Linked DNA regions of Homo sapiens. The protein of the gene in region 1 purifies or fractionates together with the protein of each later gene. This does not show direct contact. Each region holds a gene or a part of one and is shown in the gene's direction. Other genes may lie near its edges. The genes, in order: CHST12 and ATP23.

Evidence for each region.
Region 2: the proteins of CHST12 (region 1) and ATP23 purify together in Homo sapiens (affinity purification with mass spectrometry; 2 studies listed by BioGRID and IntAct, with this or other methods). This does not show direct contact.

What each region holds. Positions count from the first base shown.
Region 1 is NC_000007.14:2,425,399-2,435,997, forward strand, and holds part of CHST12 (carbohydrate sulfotransferase 12), read left to right. Parts: intron 1-7,164; coding exon of another isoform or gene 7,165-7,241; coding exon 7,242-8,486; 3' UTR 8,487-10,599. UniProt on the Homo sapiens protein: Catalyzes the transfer of sulfate to position 4 of the N-acetylgalactosamine (GalNAc) residue of chondroitin and desulfated dermatan sulfate.
Region 2 is NC_000012.12:57,951,536-57,962,134, forward strand, and holds the end of ATP23 (mitochondrial inner membrane protease ATP23 homolog), read left to right. Parts: intron 1-222; coding exon 223-360; intron 361-2,070; coding exon 2,071-2,154; intron 2,155-5,151; coding exon 5,152-5,355; 3' UTR 5,356-7,613; downstream 7,614-10,599.

The sequences.
Region 1 (10,599 bases):
GAAAATGGATATATTTCATATTCACCTTTTACCCTCCACCCCCAAAAGGGCCTATGAGATGGCCCTGCTCAAACATCTAGAAAGAAAGAGATAGGATCTGGCCTCTGACGGAGATGAGTGCCTCTGGGGATCCATGCCCTGTGGCCACCATTGTTTCTGGATGTGGCTGAGGTCACAGGACTGTTGTGAGCACAGGTGGTGAGTCACCTGTAAGGCCCACACGCGGGACAGGTGCAGGGGGCCCACATCTGCAGATGTGTGTGTGTTCAAATGCAAAATAGCACTGCATTTGCTTTTTTTTTTTTTTGTCTTTTGTCAAGCTTGTCCCTTTTCCTCTTGTATCCAACTTGCAGGTCTTCTCCCATGCTGTCTATTTGATCTTTATTTTTTTGGGTGGAGAACTTACCACTTATCCCACTATACGTTTCCATCTCTTATTTATTTTCAGCTTTACTTCTCGTCTTTCCAGGGTGTCATCTTTCTGAATGCAGATTCTGGGGAGTCTGCACTCTGGTGGTGGCAGCACAGGTGCCAGGGGTCAGGGGTTAGACGCTCTGGGGGAAGGGCCTGGCAGAAGGCAGTAAGCTGGAGGGAGAGACAGGCTGGGGACGACGGGGCTCGCTAGATCAGCAGGGGACCTCTTTGGGGGACCTGCATAGTCCGGGATGGGAGTAGGTAGATGGGCATCGTGCGAAGGGACTGCCAGTGAGAAGAGGGCAGCTGGCTGTGGGGACGAATATTCAGGGGGCTGGGACTCATTTCTGTAAAGGAACCAACGTCCTTAGCAAGAAGCCAAGGCAGGAAGGTGGCCCAGGGTTGCCCCAGGATAGGACCTGGCATGGAACCTCAGGGGCTTGGTCACAAGGGGCTTCAGAGCCAGGCTGATGTGATGGGGGCCTCTGAGCCTGAGATTCACTCGGTATTGACTGCACCCTACCATGTGCATGCACGTGGTGAGCACAACCAGACGGAGCCCACCCTCCCCAGCTATGTGAGTGAGAGCGGGAGTAATTAAACATACACACCCCAAATAAGCACACAGTTGCTGATGGGACCTATGGAGAGTGCATAGTCTGGGATTTGACCCAACTGGGAAAGACTTCGCTGAGCTGGGGATGAGTAGGTGTCTACTGATGACGGGGCAGGGGCGGGTAGACAGATGTCCTTGCCTTGTTCATGATCTTGGTGGTAAGGTACTCACTCTTGCACCCTTAATTATGAGGTTAGCTGTAGGTTTTTTTTTTTAAAGCACTCAGATTGTTGCTAATATTAAAAAAATATAACATACAAGAGTGACAGGAGAGACATACAGTCCGGGTGTGGTGGCTTATGCCTGTAATCCCAGCACTTTGGAGGCCGAGGAAGGTGGATCACTTGAGGTCAGGAGTTCAAGACCAGCCTGGCCAACATGGTGGAGCTCCATCCCTACTAAAAATACAAAAATTAGCCGGGTGTCAGGGTGGGCACCTGTAATCCTAGCTGCCTGGGAGGCTGAGGCATGAGAATCACTTGAACCTGGGAGGCGGAGGTTGCAGTGAGCCAAGATCATGCCACTGCACTCCAGCCTGGGTGACACAGCGAGACCCTGTCTCACAAAAGAAAAAGAGAGAGAGAGAGAGACATATAAATGAAAAAGTACTCAGTTTAAGAAATTTGTAGCACTTTGCAAGGCCGAGGTGGCCAGGCTGAGGCATGAGAATCACTTGAACCCGGGAGGCGGAGGTTGCAGTGAGCCAAGATCATGCCACTGCACTCCGGCCTGGGTGACACAGCGAGACCCTGTCTCACAAAAGAAAAAAGAGAGAGAGAGAGACATACAAATGTAAAAATACTCAGTTTAAGAAATTCATAGCACTTTGCGAGGCCGAGGTGGCCAGCTTGCTAGAGCCCAGGAGTTCAAGACCAGCCGGGTTAACATGGTGAGACCACAACTCTATAAAAAATTTTTAAAAATTAGCCCGGCCCAGTGGTGTGTATCTGCAGTCCCAGCTACTTGGAAGGCTGAGACGGGAGGATCACTTGAGCCTAGGAGGTCAAGGCTGCAGTGAGCTGTGATTGTGCCACTGCACTCCAGCTTAGGTGACAGAGCAAGGCTCTGTCTTGAAAAAAAAAAAAAAAAGTTTACACATTTGTTTGAAGATGAAAAGTTCAACACAGTTTGGGCCTTCCATCTGCCACCCCCCCCTACAGAGATGATAGAAAAATGGTACAGCTGTAGGGTGTTTGTAGATGCCCTATAAGTTGAGGATATCCTCTTTGCTAAGTTTGCTGAGAGTGTTTATAATGAATGGATATGGGTTTTGTTGTTCCTTCCTGTAGGAGTTGATTTTTTAGCTTGTTAATATGATAGATTACATGGTTGATTTTTGAACATTGAGCCGTTCTTGCATACCCTACTTGGTCATGCCGTGACTCCTTTTTGTTTGTTTGTTTTTTGAGATGGAGTCTTGCTCTGTCACCCAGGCTGGAGTGCAGTGGTGCGATCTCGGCTCACTGCAACCGCCACCTCCCAGATTCAAGCGATTCTCCTGCCTCAGCCTCCCGAGTAGCTGGGACTACAGGCACCCGTCACCATGGCCAGCTAATTTTTTGTATTTTTAGTAGAGACGGGGTTTCACCGTGTTTGGATCTCCTGACCTCGTGATCCACCCACCTCGGCCTCCCAAAGTGCTGGGGTTACAGGCGTGAGTCACTATGCTGTGATTCTTTCTATACACTGCTGGATTTGGTTTATTAATATTTTGAGCATTTTTGCATCCAAGTTCATAAGTGATATTGGCCTGTAGCTTTCTCTCTCTCTTTTTTTTTTTTTTTGAGACAGAGTCTTGCTCTATCACCCAGGCTGGAGTGCAGTGGCACAATCTCGGCTCACTGCAAGCTCTGCCTCTCGGGTTCAAGTGATTTTCCTGCCTCAGCCTCCTGAGTATCTGGGATTACAGGCGTCCACCACCATGCCCAGCTAATTTTTTGTATTTTTTAGTAGAGACGGTATTGTGGGATCTGGCCAGAAGCCCACAATGCAACGGGGCTCTTTTATTTGTTCCCAGGCGGATCAGCAGGTCGAGAAATAATAGACACACACAAGACAGTGAAAGCTGGGTCCGGGGGGTGACCGCCTTCTGGTCCTGCGATGCCGCCAATGCACTGGATATACCAGCATTTATTATTAAGTTTAGTGAGGGCGGGGGTAGGTTAGTGAGGGATTTAGGGTCATTTGATTATGAGGTGAGATGGTCACATGGGGATGAAGTAATTCTTTAACATAACATCTGTATGCAGAAGTACAGTATACAGAGATAAGAATTTACAATATAGCATGTGCATCAGTAATTTCTAACAGCCTTAAAACAGAAACACAGGCTTTCCATAACCTATGATTAGCAAGATATTAATCAGCAGTAATAGTTGCAGCAAAAGCTGGTTACAAACAATCCATAGAAACAGGACGTGAAGCTAGACAGCCAGTTAGACCAGAAATTCTCAGAAGGGAGTATGCCTTAACCCTAAAGAGGCCTAGAAGAGCCGTGGCAAGATGAGGGCGTTTATAGCACTATCTTATCCATATGGACAGGCGCCCCCCATGCGTCCGTTTGTAGGCTCTCCACAAGGGTCGCATTCCATTCCCAGAGCTATGAACATCTGCTTTTCTGGGATAGGAATCTTGGTGATGTGAAAGCTCCCTGACTGCATGTCCGTTCATAGGCTCTCTGCAGGGGGAAGCATATCACGTGCTGTTGGCTCATTCTGACAGTCCAACCTGGCATTGTCTTTACACAATCCTGAATGCAACTTTGTATTTACAGTAATCAGGAGCATTTCATCTTTTATTCCATAGCAATAGTTTCAGGGGGTCTCCCTACAAGACAGGGTTTCGCCATGTTGGCCAGGCTGGTCTTGAACTCCTTGACCTCAGGTGTTCCTCCTGCCTCAGCCTACCAAAGTGCTAGGATTACAAGCGTGAGCCACGACGCCCGGCCTCTTTTTTTTTGTACTTATTTTCACTGGTTTGGGTATTAGGATGATGAGTTGGACATGTCCTCTCTTCTCCTTTCTGTAAGAGATTGTATAAAATTGATGTTGTTATTCTTTGAATGTTTGATAGAATTCTTCAGTGAAACCATCTGGGCCCAGAGATTTCTTTTTAAGGAGCTTTTACGTTACAAATTTAGTTTCTTTAATTAGTATAGGATTATTCATTTTGGTAGTTTGTGGTTGTCAAGGAATTGGTCTGTTTCATCTAGGTTGCTAAATTTGTGGGCGTAAAATTGTTTGTAATAGTTCCTTATCCTTTCAATGGCTGCAGGATCTATAATTTCATTCCTTGTCTTGTTCCTGATAAAGATAATTTGTAGGTTTTTTTCATTTGTTTGGTTGGTTTTTTGTTTTTGTTTTTCTTTTGAGACAGGGTCTTGGTCTTGCTAAGACCAAGGCTGGAGGGCAGTGGCACGATCTCGGCTTACTGCAGCCTTGACCTCCTGGGCTCAAGCGATCCTCCTGCCTCAGCCTCCAGAGTAGCTAGGACTACAGGTGCATGCCACCATGCACGGCAGATTTTTGCATTTTTTATAGGGATGGGGTTTTGCCATGTTGTCTAGGCTGGTCTTGGACTCTAGGGCTCAAGAGACCCTCTCGCCTCGGCTTCCCAAAGTGCTAGGATTATAGGAGAGAGCCACCGTGCCCGGCCTTTTCTGCTTTCTAATGCTCTTGGCACCACAGTGACTGTAACATATGTTGTATTTTCATTCTCATTCTATTCTGTGTACTTTAACTTTTTCCTTTGCTATTATTTAGAAATGTGTCATTTATTTTCCAGGAATTTGTGTTTGTGGATTTTCCTGTTGTCTTTTCTGTTATTGATTTCTAGTTTTATTCCTTTATATAAAATATTTCAATTCTTTTATTTTTATTTATTTATTCATTTTTATTTATTTTTTTGAGATGGAGTCTTGCTCAGTCACCCAGGTTGGAGTGCAGTGGCACAATCTTGGCTCCTTGCAACCTCTGCCTCCTGGGTTCAAGCGATTCTCCTGCCTCAGTCTCCTGAGTAGCTGGGATTACAGGCGCCTGCCACCATGCCCAGCTAATTTTTGCATTTTTTTAGTAGAGACGGGGTTTCACCATGTTGGCCAGGCGGGTCTTGAACTCCTGACCTCAGGTGATCCACCTGCCTTGGCCTCCCAAAGTGCTGGGATTACAGGCATAAGCCACCATGCCCAGCCTAAATTTTGTATTTTCAGTAGAGACAGTTTCACCATGTTGGCCAGGCGGGTCTCCAACTCCTGATCTCAAGTGATCCACCTGCCTCGGCCTCCCAAAGTGCTGGGATTACAGGCATGAGCCACCACACCCAGCCTAAATTTTGTAATTTCAGTAGAGACAGGGTTTCACCATGTTGGCCAGGCTGGTCTCCAACTCCTGATCTCAAATGATCCACCCGCCTTGGCCACCTGAAGTGATGGGATTACAGATGTGAGCCACCGTGCCCTGTCAAGATTTCAATTCTTTTAAATTAGCTGAGGTTTGGTCTACCATGGTGAATGTTTTGTGGACACTTAGAAAAAACTGTGTTCTCTTGTTAGGTGAGTGTTCTGCATATGTCGGTTATGTCCTGTTGGTTGCTGGTGTTGAGTTCTTCTGTATCCTTGCTGATTTTCTGCCTCATAGTTTTGTCAGTTATCAAGAGTGAAGTGTTGAAGTCTCCAGCCATAATTGTGGATTTGTCTGTTTATCCTTTAGCTCTATCGATTTTTGCTTTTTGTATTTTGAGGCTCTGTTGTTTGGTGCATACATGTTTAGGATTGTTATGTCTTCCTGGGGATTGAACTGTTTGTCATTATGTAATGTCCTTTTGTCTCTAGTAGTTTCCTTCCTTCTGAAATTTGCTTCATCTGATATTAAGATAGCCACTCCTGCTTTCTTTTCATTAATATTTGCATGATTAATGTTTTCCATTCCCGGGAGAGAGGAGGTGAGAAAGTAGAGGGCCAACTTGCCCCACCTCTAACCACCTCACGCCATGTCATGGGTGCCAGATAGGGGTGGAGTAGAGTTGGAGTTCAGCTCCTACTGGGCCCTGACCTGGCTGGGGGAGAGGGAGTCAGAGTGTGGACTCTCCTGCCTCACACCATCTCCTTCCACCTTGTGGATGCCAGGTGGGGTCAAGGCTTAGCTCCCTGCTGGACCACACTGACAGTACCCTGGTGGGACAGACAGAGGAAGCACCTCTACTTCCATGGGCAGAGGAAGGGGTATCAGCTCCCAGCTCAGCCCCACCAACACCCCCTGGTGCCTGGCAGGGGAATAGCAATGTGCCACTTACTTTTGGGAAGCCAGGGTGGTGTGGAAGGTCAGCTCTCAGGGTGGCCCTGATGAAGCTGTAGGGTGCAGTTTTTCCATTGGCATTCGACTTAAGTAGAGTGGGTGTTGCCAAAACAATTTTCCTGTTGTTGGGTCACTGTGAAGTTAAGGAATGGTTCCCAAGACCCCTCTTACTTATGACACCAATAGCAAATGCAGGCGTCCCTGAGACCACTGTGGGGTTTGATGATTTGCTAGAAAGATTACAGAGCTCACTGATCACAGTTATTCTTGTGGCTATGGTTTATTATAGGAAAAGGATATAGATTCGAAGATTAAAATCAGCCTTGGCAGGAGAATGGCGTGAACCTGGGAGGTGCAGCTTGCAGTGAGCCAAGATCGGGCCACTGCACTCCAGCCTGGGCGACAGAGCGAGACTCCATATCAAAAAAAAAAAAAAAAAAAAAAAAAAAAAAAAAAAATCAGCCTTGGGAAGAGTTGCAGAGGGCAGAGTCCAGGAGGGCTCACACCTGGAGCTGGTCTCCACTCCCTGGGAGGCGTCCTCTTCTTGGGAGTTGTGGGCAATATTACTTTCCCGCCAGTGGCGAGTGTCAGCACATGTGGAGTACTGCCAGCCAGGGAAGCACGCGAGCCTTGGCGTCCAGGGTCATTACTGGTGCTCGGGCACATGGATGTGTAGACTCCCTGCACTGCTGACCTCAGCCTCCAGCCCCTCTGGAGGGCGAGCTGATATCACGTGGCCCAGCGCTCCTGCTCCTCCGGACCCCAGTCCCCCACTGATCAGAAGGCAGGAGTCAGAGCCCCAGTGCACCTCAGTCATTAACTAGTGTGTCATTGCATCTGCAGGTTCCCAGCAGGATGCCCCGGCTCTGCAGGAAGCTGAAGTGAGAGGCCCGGAGAGGGCCCAGCCCGCCCGGGGCAGGATGACCAAGGCCCGGCTGTTCCGGCTGTGGCTGGTGCTGGGGTCGGTGTTCATGATCCTGCTGATCATCGTGTACTGGGACAGCGCAGGCGCCGCGCACTTCTACTTGCACACGTCCTTCTCTAGGCCGCACACGGGGCCGCCGCTGCCCACGCCCGGGCCGGACAGGGACAGGGAGCTCACGGCCGACTCCGATGTCGACGAGTTTCTGGACAAGTTTCTCAGTGCTGGCGTGAAGCAGAGCGACCTTCCCAGAAAGGAGACGGAGCAGCCGCCTGCGCCGGGGAGCATGGAGGAGAGCGTGAGAGGCTACGACTGGTCCCCGCGCGACGCCCGGCGCAGCCCAGACCAGGGCCGGCAGCAGGCGGAGCGGAGGAGCGTGCTGCGGGGCTTCTGCGCCAACTCCAGCCTGGCCTTCCCCACCAAGGAGCGCGCATTCGACGACATCCCCAACTCGGAGCTGAGCCACCTGATCGTGGACGACCGGCACGGGGCCATCTACTGCTACGTGCCCAAGGTGGCCTGCACCAACTGGAAGCGCGTGATGATCGTGCTGAGCGGAAGCCTGCTGCACCGCGGTGCGCCCTACCGCGACCCGCTGCGCATCCCGCGCGAGCACGTGCACAACGCCAGCGCGCACCTGACCTTCAACAAGTTCTGGCGCCGCTACGGGAAGCTCTCCCGCCACCTCATGAAGGTCAAGCTCAAGAAGTACACCAAGTTCCTCTTCGTGCGCGACCCCTTCGTGCGCCTGATCTCCGCCTTCCGCAGCAAGTTCGAGCTGGAGAACGAGGAGTTCTACCGCAAGTTCGCCGTGCCCATGCTGCGGCTGTACGCCAACCACACCAGCCTGCCCGCCTCGGCGCGCGAGGCCTTCCGCGCTGGCCTCAAGGTGTCCTTCGCCAACTTCATCCAGTACCTGCTGGACCCGCACACGGAGAAGCTGGCGCCCTTCAACGAGCACTGGCGGCAGGTGTACCGCCTCTGCCACCCGTGCCAGATCGACTACGACTTCGTGGGGAAGCTGGAGACTCTGGACGAGGACGCCGCGCAGCTGCTGCAGCTACTCCAGGTGGACCGGCAGCTCCGCTTCCCCCCGAGCTACCGGAACAGGACCGCCAGCAGCTGGGAGGAGGACTGGTTCGCCAAGATCCCCCTGGCCTGGAGGCAGCAGCTGTATAAACTCTACGAGGCCGACTTTGTTCTCTTCGGCTACCCCAAGCCCGAAAACCTCCTCCGAGACTGAAAGCTTTCGCGTTGCTTTTTCTCGCGTGCCTGGAACCTGACGCACGCGCACTCCAGTTTTTTTATGACCTACGATTTTGCAATCTGGGCTTCTTGTTCACTCCACTGCCTCTATCCATTGAGTACTGTATCGATATTGTTTTTTAAGATTAATATATTTCAGGTATTTAATACGAAATGTGGAAGGGAATGCTGGAGTAAAATATCCCCTCTCCCCTCCGCCCGCCCACCCGCCCGCCCGCTCGCCCGCTCGCCCGCTCCTGTGGTTTTTCTGAGCGTGCGGGCGCCGGGAGGGGATGCTGAGGCTGATGGAGCTGCCTCCAGGGCTAGGGCCACTCACCGGAGGAGGGCGGGGCCTGCACTTGAAGTCAGGCCGCACCTGTCTGTTTTTGGAAGGGTAGCCGACAAATCCTTCCAGAGGGAAAGTTCTTTGTTTAAGTGTTGTACTTGAAAAGGTCAATCTTCAGGGCTTCCTGTTTGAAGTCAAGTCAGAGGTAAACCGGTCAGTTACAGAAGCAGGATTTCTAGGATTTCTAACTCCAGCTGTTCCCATACTGTCTAGTTTAAATTATGGCTGTTAAGGCCGGGCGGGTGACTCAGGCAGGTAATCCCAGAACTTTGGGAGGCCCAGACAGAAGGATCGCTTGAGGTCAGGAATTTGAGACCTGGCCAACATGGTGAAACCCTGTCTCTACTAAAAAAAAAAAAAAAAAAAAAAAAAAAAAAAAAAAAATGAGTCGGGTGTGGTGGTGTGCACCTGTAGTCCCAGCTACTCAGGAGTTCTGAGATGGAAAGATTGCTTGAACCCAGGAGGCAGAGGCTGCAGTGAGCTGAGATCGCGACATTGCACTCTAGCCTGGGTGACAGAGTGAGATTCCATCTCAAAATAAATAAATAAATATTAATACATTATGGCTATTAAGGCTGGGCACGGTGGCTCATGCCTGCAATCCTGGCACTTTGGGAGGCTGAGGGGGGAAGATCACTTGAGCCCAGGAGTTCAAGACCAGCTTGGGCAACATAGCAAGGACCTCATCTCTACAAAAAATAAAAAGGACGTGGTGGTGCACATCTGTAAACCCAGCTACTCAGGAGGCTGAGGAGGGAGGATCACTTGAGCCCAGGAGTTCAAGATCAGTTTGGACCACATAGCGAGACCCTGTGTCTACAAAAAATAAGAAAATCAGCCGGACATGATGGTGCACACCTGTAATCCCAGCTACTCGGGAGGCTGAGGCAGGAGGATCGCTGGAGCCCAGGAGTTCAAGGCTGCAGTGACCTATGATCGTGCCACTGCACTCCAGCCTGGGCAGCAAAGTGAGACTCTGTTTCTAAATAGACAGATAGAAGATAGGTAGATAGATAGATTAAATAGAAAGTAAACTATGGCTGTTGAGGTTTACAGTTGGCAGGAGTGGAGTGGTTTGGCGTTTATCTCTAGACCGTGCTGGATGACAGTACCCAGTGTCACCAAGAAGAGGCTCCGTGTGACTGTCTCTGTGGCTTTCTGGTTGGTTTAGCTCCAGTGCCTTCACCCTCAAGGACACGACTGACCTTGAACCCTCAGGTTTGATGGGCCCTGTCTTGATAAAAGTGTCAGAGGAGGCTCTGGAAACATCTGGCTGAAACTCCTTTGCTATTTCTGCTTCTAAGCTGTAGTTGGAGAGATGGTTGCAATCATTTCGTGGTGTCGGGCACCCTGCTTGACCTGTCTTCCTCGTGTGTGGTATTTGTCACCACTGCCCAGTCCCTGGTTGCTGGCCACGCTCAGTTGGGACATACCCTGGTGTCCTCTGTGTGTGGTGTCCCTGTGTTTCCCAGGCTCAGGTGGGCTTGTGTGGGTCTTGGCCCCCAGTGCCTGCTAGCCTCAGGTGTCCCCTGTGTTAGACACCTCCTGCCTTCCTTTCTGAAGCTTCGCTTTCTTTTATTTTTGTTTTGTTTTGTTTTTGGAGACAGGGTCTCGCTCTGTCATCCGGGCTGGAATACACTGGTGCAATCACAGCTCACTGCAGCTTCAACCTCCTGGGCTCAAGTGATCTTCCCATCTCAGACTCCCAAGTAGCTGGGGTTACAGGTGAGCGCCAGCCTGCCCAGCTAGTTTTTTATTTTCAGCA
Region 2 (10,599 bases), on another chromosome or scaffold:
GAGAAGGGAGAAGTTAGTCACTGGGCGAGGCAATTGGAGCATGTACACTTAGGACTAGGACTTGTCCCATGGGTAGATGTGTGGCCAATGAAGAAGAGTGGGTAGAGATATTCCAGGCAGGTGAGCTTGTGGGGGAGAGGTGAGGTCATGTGGGAGAGAAGATCGAGTCTATGGAAGGAGATTTTAGAATCACTGAACTTCTTTTATTTTGGTGTCTCCTAGATAGTTTTGTGCCAGAATAATATCCATAATCAGGCCCATATGAACAGAGTGGTCACACACGAGCTTATTCATGCATTTGATCATTGTCGTGCCCATGTCGACTGGTTCACCAACATCAGACATTTGGCGTGCTCAGAGGTGAGTTTTATTGTATTTTTCTCCAGAATACTCTATGCTTGAATATTTTATTCAAGTGTAATTTATTTAAATGTATTCCTTTTCTTACTGTCATAGTTCTACCTTAGTCTTGAATTTCGGTTTATAACTAACATTGAATACCATTTTTGATATACAGTTAGAGAAATTTAAAGTGTATTTTTAGAATTCTCTTAACTATATCCTGTAAGTCCTAGTAATAGTGATGACTGACTTTAATAAGCTATTAATTTTTTCCTATGGAATATATTTTATAATGTATTCCATAGGAGACATTAATAATAAAAATAAAAATAAAAAAATAATTAAAATTTACTGAGGGCTGTGTTCCAAACACTGTTCTGTTTGCACAGATTCTTATTTAATCTTCACAATAACCTACTGAGATAGATATTATACTATTATTGTCCCTGTTTTACATATGTGGAAAGTGAGACAGTTGTTTAGATTCCAAAGTTAGTAAGTGGTAGAGGCAGGATTACAACTAGTGTTTTTAACTAGCTTGCCCAGCTGCCTTCCATAGAGCTCCTTGCTTGCCCTAGAGTAAAACATGCTCTTTTCAAAAATACAACATAAAAAGATATTTATTACTAAGCACGTTGGATTGCTCTTGGAATATGCTCCTAGAGAGAGCGTATTCTGCATATGCATATACTTGGATGTCATTAATTGAAGAGTTAATTAAAATAATCTAAATCTCAAGCCTATACTATATAACTTCGATTATTTCCCTTTCTCTTGAAATTAATATGTAGCCCCCTGCATCTAATTATAATTCCAATTATTTGGAGAATAGACTGAAACCTGAATTTTTAAATAGGTCTCTTTCTTGGGTACTGTGAGAATTAATGCCTTTTAGCTAGTTAAAGTGTGTTAAGTACTTTGAGCTCCTCAGAGGAATGAGGCCATAATATTGAAGAAGGAACAAGAAGTGGGCCATTCTGTTAGCAATGAATTAGCAAAAATGTGGTCAAGCTGCCTGTAGAATCTATGTGGGTAGTTCTAAGACTTTTTCATTCATTGAAGTATAGTAAATCTGAAAATATGTCCTAATTTCAGGCTGTCATGCTCATAGCGTGACCAGTTTGGAATGTTCTTGATTCTTTGTGTTTTGTATTGCTTCATTTTTCATAGGACAATCAAGTCCCTAGAGGAAGGTCATGAACTTATATAGGTTTGAGGGAAGCTCCAAGGGAGATTCGGGCAAGGGTTGGGAGGGGCATATTCTCAAAGTGTCTCAGATATTAATGCATTCAGTTTTAAGGTCACATTGAAACTCAGTTTATTTCAAGAATGCTTTCTTGAAGTACTTTTGGCAATTTCTACAAGTATTTGTATCTTGTAGAGTGTGTAGTTTAACTCTGAGGTCTAGCTCTCTGACTTTTGGTTCCAAAAGAAATTAGTTCTGTCAGTAAAGCTACGCATAAAGTTTAGAAAATTTCCTTTGGTAGGCGATTGAACTTTTCCCCATCTCTCCAGTGTATTTGGCATTGTCTAGCATAGCTCATAGATATTTGCTCTCGTTGTCAATAGAGTTTAAAAAGTCCTTTAAGAAGAAGTGTCACAAATACTCTTTTCTCAGACAAAGATGCTAATTTTATATTCTTTTCTAATTTTTAAAAATTGGTTGATATCATAAAGATATATAGAGCATGAGCGTTTATTTCTTTTTATTTGTCTTCTGTGTGATAGGTTCGAGCTGCTAACCTTAGTGGAGACTGCTCACTTGTCAATGAAATATTCAGGTTACATTTTGGATTAAAACAACACCACCAGGTAAAAACTAATATGAAATCACTTCCCCTCCAGAGTGTTACGAGTGGAAATAATGAATAAAGAAATGAAAAGTACATTCAGTATTTGAAATTTGAAAGAACTTCGTATGTGAAAAGAATACAAAGTATGTACCATTTAAACAAAGTAGATGGAATTTAGTTCTACTTTGTAATTATGGGCAAGCTATGTGACTCAATGAGTGTGTGAGATAGTCTAATAATGAAAAGAGGCCTGGTGCGGTGGCTTATGCCTCCCAGCAGTTTGGGAGGCCGAGGCGGGCGGATCACGAGGTCAGGAGATCGAGACCAGCGTGGCCAACATGGTGAAACCCCGTGTCTACTAAAAATACAAAAAAATTAGCTGGGCGTAGTGGAGCACACCTGTAGTCCCAACTACTATGGAGGCTGAGGCAGGAGAATCACTTGAATCTGGGAGATGGAGGTTGCAGTGAGCCGAGATCATGCCACTGCACTCCAGTCTGGGCCACAGAGTGAGACTCCATCTCAAAAAAAAAAAAAAAAAAAAAGGAGCTAAGATCTTGCATCTGGGATACTTTTCGATGGGGGTGGATAAGGAATGGAAGTGAAATCACAGCATGTCTTACTGTTATTCTAACAATTCTTGACTTCTATTTTGAATCTACCATAGCATTCTGGAGACAAAAGATGTAATCCCTTTCAGAACAGAGAGTGTGTTGCTGCACAAGTTATGGCTATGTGTCAGTGTACCTGTAAAGGCTATATAATGTGATAGAAAACCTTTGGCTTAGCACAGACTTGAGTATGATGAGCTTAGCTGAGAGGGATTTGTGTGAACAAAACAAAAACAAAAAACAAAAGAGAGCTATAAGGCAAGATTATCCTGGTAGAAAGGCTTTGAGATCTGTATTAGGTGGACGTGGGGAAAGAAAGTATAGGACTCATGGATTGATAATGAATGTGAGCAGTTCTGCCTGGGCCTGTGTCCACATTTAGGAGAAAGGCTGGTCAGTCATTTTCTACAGTAAGAGCCTGCTGAGTCAGTTTGTGAAGTATATGAGCATCACGATATCAGTTCCAACTAGATGAAAAAAGATAGGCTTAGGACAACAGGAAGGCCCTTGGTTTTCTGGAGAAGAGAGTAACTCAACTCTGGAGTGGGGGGTGGAAAGTCACAGTGAGCTACTCAGAAATTGTGAACTTAGTGAATGGGAGGGAGAAGAAAAGCCTTCTGCCTGGAAAGGGTGATTACTCTAGACAGTGAGGTGTTCAGCCTCTGCCAGGTCAGCTTAGTGATATGCCAGTGACTTGTCTTGTGCTGCATGTTTTCTGTGCCCTTGAGTCCCTGCTTCTCTGGTGAATTCTGTGTGTTCTGGCTGTCAGTGGAGAGGGTGGAAGCAGGGTACACATCAGCACGCCCCTAGAGAAGAGAATAATGTGGTTAAAGCATGTGCTGGCATAGCTTATGGATATCTGCTCTTGTCAATAGAGTTTGAAAAATTCCTTAAAAAAAAAAACTATTACATATACTCTGTTTTTAGAAAAATATGCTAATTTTATATTCTTTTCCAATTAAAAAAAAATCAGTTGATATACTAAAGAAATAGAGCATGTTTTTTTTTTTTTTAATTCACCTTCTATCTTTGTGATAGGTTTGTGATGCACACAATCTTTGAAAGAGGAAGTTTTCCTCTTTTTACCATTGGGTAGCAGCAGCAGAAAACAAATAGAAACAGCAATAGGACAGAAAATAAGTGGAGGTAGTAGGAATCTGGCTGAGGGAGAAGAGTCTTAGAGAATGGAGTCCCTGCTTTTGTACAGCATGTACCCAGGAAATAGAAACAGCAAGTACAGTTACTGATTGTAAAATTGCATAGTCATATCTTTATTTTAACAGAAATTTATTATGTCTGAAAAGAAGTAAATCTGTGGTCTACACTTGTGTCTCCCAACCCTGTGGCTTCAGGAGACAAATTTTTGTACCTTTTTTCCCTGGAGGGGAGAAATTTCCTCTCTTTTTAGCAACTGTTGTTTTGGCTTCACATGGTTCTTCCTTTTCTTGTTCCTTTATGCCTGGGGTTTATTTTTTAAAATCAGCGTTTAGTAAAATTCAGGTTGAGAAACACTATATTCCAATGTTAGTGAATATCTCCAGCTTGAGCACACTGACCAGGCCAATGAAAAACTGGGAACATGTGGAGAAAACGGATGGCTGTCAGGATGCACAGCCATCCAAACCAGTGTTTGATTATTTTTAGGAAAAGGTCAAATGCCATTCTTTTGAGTTTTAGATTGGTCCTGGGGAGAAATAAATGGATTAAAAGCTCTCCAAGAATTGGAATGGCAGGGCCTTATATTTCTTAAATATTTAAATTAGAGTATTGAGAAATTCTAGCCTATTACTATGAAATGTTAGGTAAATTATTATCTTAGAACTTTAATATCTGTGTAAAGAACAATCAGGAAAAAAAAGTTGTTTAATTTCCACACCCCCTAAAAAATTAAGGTACATTCCAAGTTCGGGTGGATATGTGTATGGTTTCCTGTTGCCTCCAGAGAGGACTTACCCTTCTCAAAGGAAAAGTTATCTAGCATTGGTCAACTGAAAAGAAAGAGAGGTACAGAAGTGAAGTATATTTTAAATTTAATTAAATTTTATCAAAAAGTCAATCAGGACTTTATAGACTTTTTTTTTTTTTTTGGCGAGTTTGCAAATTGGGAGATATTGTTTGGCAGACACTGCCAAGAATTTCTGAGAATGACATCTGCTTATATCAGTGGGAAAGATGAGAAAATGGAGAAGGTCTTACTTATGCCTAAATAATTTTAGGTTGAGCTAAAAATACTCCTTAAGTGTTATGGATCTTTGTTCATTTTGTTTTCTTCTTTGGAATGACAGAAATTAGTAAAATAATATGAGGAAATTAATTTTAATTAATTCAGACATTAGATAAAATGTATTATTTCGTGATTAAATGTTTATATAAAATTAGAGCCTCATACTTTTCCTTCTTTTTAGACTTGTGTGCGAGACAGAGCCACTCTTTCTATCCTGGCTGTTAGGAATATCAGCAAAGAAGTAGCTAAAAAGGCTGTTGATGAAGTTTTTGAATCTTGTTTCAATGACCATGAACCTTTTGGAAGGATCCCACATAACAAGACTTATGCAAGATATGCTCACAGAGACTTTGAAAACCGTGATCGGTATTATTCAAATATATGAGCACAATGACATTTTTATATTACAGAGCTTCCATCATCATGAAGAAAAAAAAATTTGGTTCTCAAGTGAACAAACATATAAAATGTAAACAATCCCTACAATCCAGATAAAACAGAGAAGACTGTGATTCTAGCATATTATCAGAAAAAGTAACTATGGCAAAAAATGAAACTGCTTTAAACTCCAAGGCAGAAATTGTATCTTTATAGCTAACCATTTAGTAAATAAATACATTACATTTTTGTATTTTAGTCATTTGTTTTTATTACATGTGATTATTTTAAAATTTGATTATGAAACCTGTGAAGTGTGCTCTTCCATGATGTTGATAGGTGACCACTGTTGGTATTTACATTAAATGTAAAGAAATGTGTACTGATCTCATTGTAGGATACTTATTGAGCTGTTGTTATGATGAAAATTGGAAATAATTCATTCAGTGGTCAATGCTATCCTCTCCCTATTCTTCTTTTATCATATATGTGGGACCCATATGGCCTAATTTTCTGGGGACAGTCCTGGTTAGATCTTTTTCTTTTTAATAAAGGCAGTGCTCGAATTTTAGCTCCAGATCGACTGCAAGAACAAACCAGCAATACTGAGAGGACCCACAGACCCTCTGAAGGAAGCGACTGCTCCTACAGTGCCCAGGAGACACCCCAAATACTGTGAGTGCCCAACTGCAGAAGTGGGAAAGGGAGACCCTCCTCTCCCACACACACCCCCCCACTGGAGAAACTGAAGGTCTGTTTGTGGGAGAAGTTTCCGACCTTACCTGGAGCTGAGTTAATTTAGAGAGCCGAGCGAAATACAGGGGTAGAGCAAGCAGCAGGAAGGCCCAGGGAGCTCGCTGGGTCCCCAAGCAGCCCATTCCTGCCTGTCACCACAGAGATCCATTGCAAGGGCAGCCAGAAGAGCAGCGGGTAAAACTCCACAGGGAGAAGGACATCTCTAGCTGAACTTTGTAACTATTTCAATGGGGCAAGAAGCCTCCCGGCCAGAACTTGGGAGAGGGCACAAATCCCATGTGCAGAATCCACAGAGGGGAAGAACCAAGCTCTTTTCTTTCACAGCTGGGAGGTGGGTAGCCTGGGGCAAGTTTTCAAGCCTGTCTCACCCACCACCTGGAAGCAGACTTGGGGCTGTGGTGGGGGGCATGGTGGGAGTGAGACTGGCCCTTCGGCTTGTGTGGGAGCTGGGTGAGGCCTGTGACTGCCGGCTTTCCCCTACTTCCCTGACAACCTGCATGACTCCCCAGAGGCAGTCATAATCCTCCTAGGGACACAACTCCAGTGACCTGGGAATCTCACCCTCATCTCCCACAACAGTCACAGCAAGACCTGCCCAAGGAGAGTCTGAGCTCAGACATGTCTATCCCTGCCCCGACCTGATGTTCCTTCCCTACCCACCCTGGTATCTGAACAAAAAGGGCATACAATCTTGGGAGTTCTAGGGCCCCACTCACCACAAGTTCTTCTCCATACTACCACAACTGATGCTCTCTGGAAAGCGCTACCTCCTGGCAGGAGGCCAGCCAGCACAAAAATAGAGCCTTCAACCACCAAAGCTAAGAACCCTCATGGAGTCCATTGCACCCCCCCTGCCACCTCCACTGGAACAGGTGCTGGTATCCACAGCCGAGAGACCCATAGACGGTTCACATCACAGGATTCTGTGCAGGCAACCCCCAGTACCAGCATGGAGCTGGGTAGACTCACTGGGTGGCTAGACCCAGAAGAGAGACAACAATCACAGCAGTTTGGCTTACAGGAAGCCACATCCATCGGAAAAGGGGGAGGGTATACATCAAGGGAACACCCTGTGGGACAAAGGAACCTGAACAATGGCCTTCAGCCCTAGACCTTCCCTTTGACAGAGACTACCCAAATGAGAAGGAACCAGAAAACTAACCCTGGTAATATGACAAAACAAAAGCTCTTTAACACCCACAAAAAAATCACACTAGTTCACCAGCAATGGATTCAAACCAAGAAGAAATCCCTGATTTACCTGAAAAAGAATTCAGGAGGTTAGTTATTAAGCTAATCAGGGAGGCACCAGAGAAAGGCAAAGCCCAGTGCAAGGAAATCCAAAAAATGATATAAGAAGTGAAGGGAGAAATATTCAAGGAAATGGAGAGCTTAAAGAAAAAAGAATAAAAAATTCAGGAAACTTTGGACACACTTTTAGAAATGCAAAATGCTCTGGAAAATCTCAGCAATAGAATTGAACAAGTAGAAGAAAGAAATTCAGAGCTTGAAGACAAGGTCTTCAAATTAACCCAATCCAAAAAAGACAAAGAAAAAAGAATAAGAAAATATGAACAAAGCTTCCAAGAAGTCTAGGATTATGTTAAGTGACCAAAACTAAGAATAATCAGTGTTCCTGAGGAAGAAGAGAATTCTAAAAGCTTGGAAGACATATATGGGGGAAATAATCAAGGAAAACTTCTCTGGCCTTGCGAGAGACCTAGACATTCAAATACAAGAAGCACAAAGAACACCTGGGAAATTCATCACAAAAAGATCATTGTTTAAGTACATTGTCACTAGGTTATCCAAAGTTAAGATGAAGGAAAGAATCTTAAGAGCTGTGAGACAGAAGCACCAGGTAACCTATAAAGGAAAACCTATCAGATTAACAACAGATTTCTCAGCAGAAACCCTACAAGCCAGAAGGGATTGGGGCCCTATCTTCAGCCTCCTCAAACAAAACAATTATCAGCCAAGGATTTTGTATCCAGTGAAACAAAGCATCATATATGAAGGAAAGATACAGTCTTTTTTCAGACAAATAAGTGCTGGGAGAATTCACCACTACCAAGCCACCACCACAAGAACTGCTTAAAAGGAGCTCTAAATCTTGAAACAAATCCTGGAAATGCAACACATCAAAACAGAACCTCTTTAAAGCATAAATCACACAGGATCTGTAAAACGAAAATACAAATTAAAAAGCAAAAGTAAAAAACCAAAATACAGAGGCAACAAAGAGCATGATGAATGCAATGATACCTCACATTTCAATTATAACATTGAATGTAAATGGCCTAAATGCTCCACCTAAAAGAAATAGAACCACAGAATGGATAAAAACTCACCAACCAACTATCTGCTGCCTTCAGGAGACTCACCTAACACATAAGAACTCACATAAACTTAAACTAAAGGGGTGGAATAAAGCATTTGATGCAAACGGACACCAAAAGTGAGCAGGGGTGGCTATTCTTACATCAGACAAAACAAACTTTAAAACAACAGCAGTTAAAAGAGACAAAGAGGGACATTACATAATGGTAAAAGGCCATGTCCAACAGGAAAATATTACTGTCCTAAACATATATGCATCTAACACTGGAGCTTCCAAATTTATAAAACAATTACTAATAGACCTAAGAAATGAGAGACAGCAACACAACAAGAGTGGGGGACTTCAGTACTCCACTGACAGCATTAGACAGGTCATCAAGACAGAAAGTCAACAAAGAAACAAGGGATTTAAACTATAACTTGGAACAAATGGACTTAACCGATATATACAGAACATTTCATGCAACAACCACAGAATACACGTTCTATTCAACAGTGCATGGAACTTTCTCCAAGGTAGACCTTAGGATAGGCCATAAAATGAGCCTCAATAAATTTAAGAAAATCAAAATTATATCAAGCACTCTCTCTGACCACAGTGGAATAAAACTGGAAATCAACTCCAAAAGGAACCATCAAAACCATGCAAATACATGGAAATTAAATAACTTGCTCCTGAATGAGTATTGGGTCAAGAACGAAATCAAGATGGAAATTAAAAAATTCTTTGAACTGAATGATAATAATGACACAACCTACCAAACCCCTGGGATAAAGCAAAGGTGGTGCTAGGAGGAAGGTTCATAGCCCTAAATGCTGATATCAAAAAGACTAAAAGAGCACAAACTGACATTCTAAGGTCACACCTCAAGGAACTAGAGAAACAAGAACAAACCAAACCCAAACCCAGTAGAAGAAAGAAGTAACCAAGATCAGAGCAGAACTAAAGGAAATTGAAACAGCAATAACAACAACAAAAATACAAAAGATAAATGAAACAAAAAGCTGGTTCTTTGATAAGATAAGTAAAATTGATGGACTATTAGCAAGATTAACTGAGAAAATAAGAAAGAAAATCCAAATAATTTCACTAATAAACAAAACAGGAGATATTACAACTGACACCACTGAAATACAAAGGATCATTCAAAGCTACTGTGAACACCTTTATGCACATAAACTGGAAAACCTAGAAGAGATGGATAAATTCTTGGAAAAACACAATCCTCCTAGCTTAAACCAGGAAGAATTAGATACCCTGAACAGACTAATAACAAGCAGCGAGATTGAAATGGTAATTAAAAAATTACCAACAAAAAAAGTCCCGGACCAGATGGATTCACAGCAGAATTCTACCAGACATTCAAAGAAGAATTGATACCAATCGTTTTGACACTATTCCACAAGATAGAGAAAGAAGAAACCCTTCCTAATTCATTCTATGAAGCCAGCATCACCCTAATACCAAAATCAGGGCAGGACATAACCATAAAAGAAAACTACAGACCAATATCCTTGAAGAACATAGATGCTAAAATCATTAACAAAATACTAGCTAACTGAATTCAACAACATATCAAAAAGATAATCCACCATGATTAAGTGGGCTTCATACCAAGGATGCAGGGATGGTTTAACATACACAGTTCAATAAATGTGATACACCACACAAACAATTAAAAACAAAAATCATGTGATCATCTCAATAGATGCAGAAAAAGCATTCAACAAAATCCAGCATTGCTTTATGATTAAAACTCTCAGCAAAATGGGCAGACAAGGGACAGGTATGTCCCTTGTAATAAAAGCCATCTATGATAGACCCACAGCCAACATAATACTGAGTGGGGAAAAGTTGAAAGCATTCCCTCTGAGAACTGGAACAAGACAAGGATGCCCACTCTCACCACTCCTCTTCAACATAGTACTGGAAGTCCAAGCCAGAGCAATCAGACAAGAGAAAGAAATAAAGGGCATCCAAATTGGTAAAGGGAAAGTCAAACTGTCACTGTTTGCTGGTGATATGATTGTTTACCTTGAAAACTCCAAAGACTCCTCCAGAAAGCTCTTAGAACAGATAAAAGAATTCAGCAAAGTTTCTGGATACAAGATTAATGTACACAAATCAGTAGCTCTTCTATATACCAACAGCAAC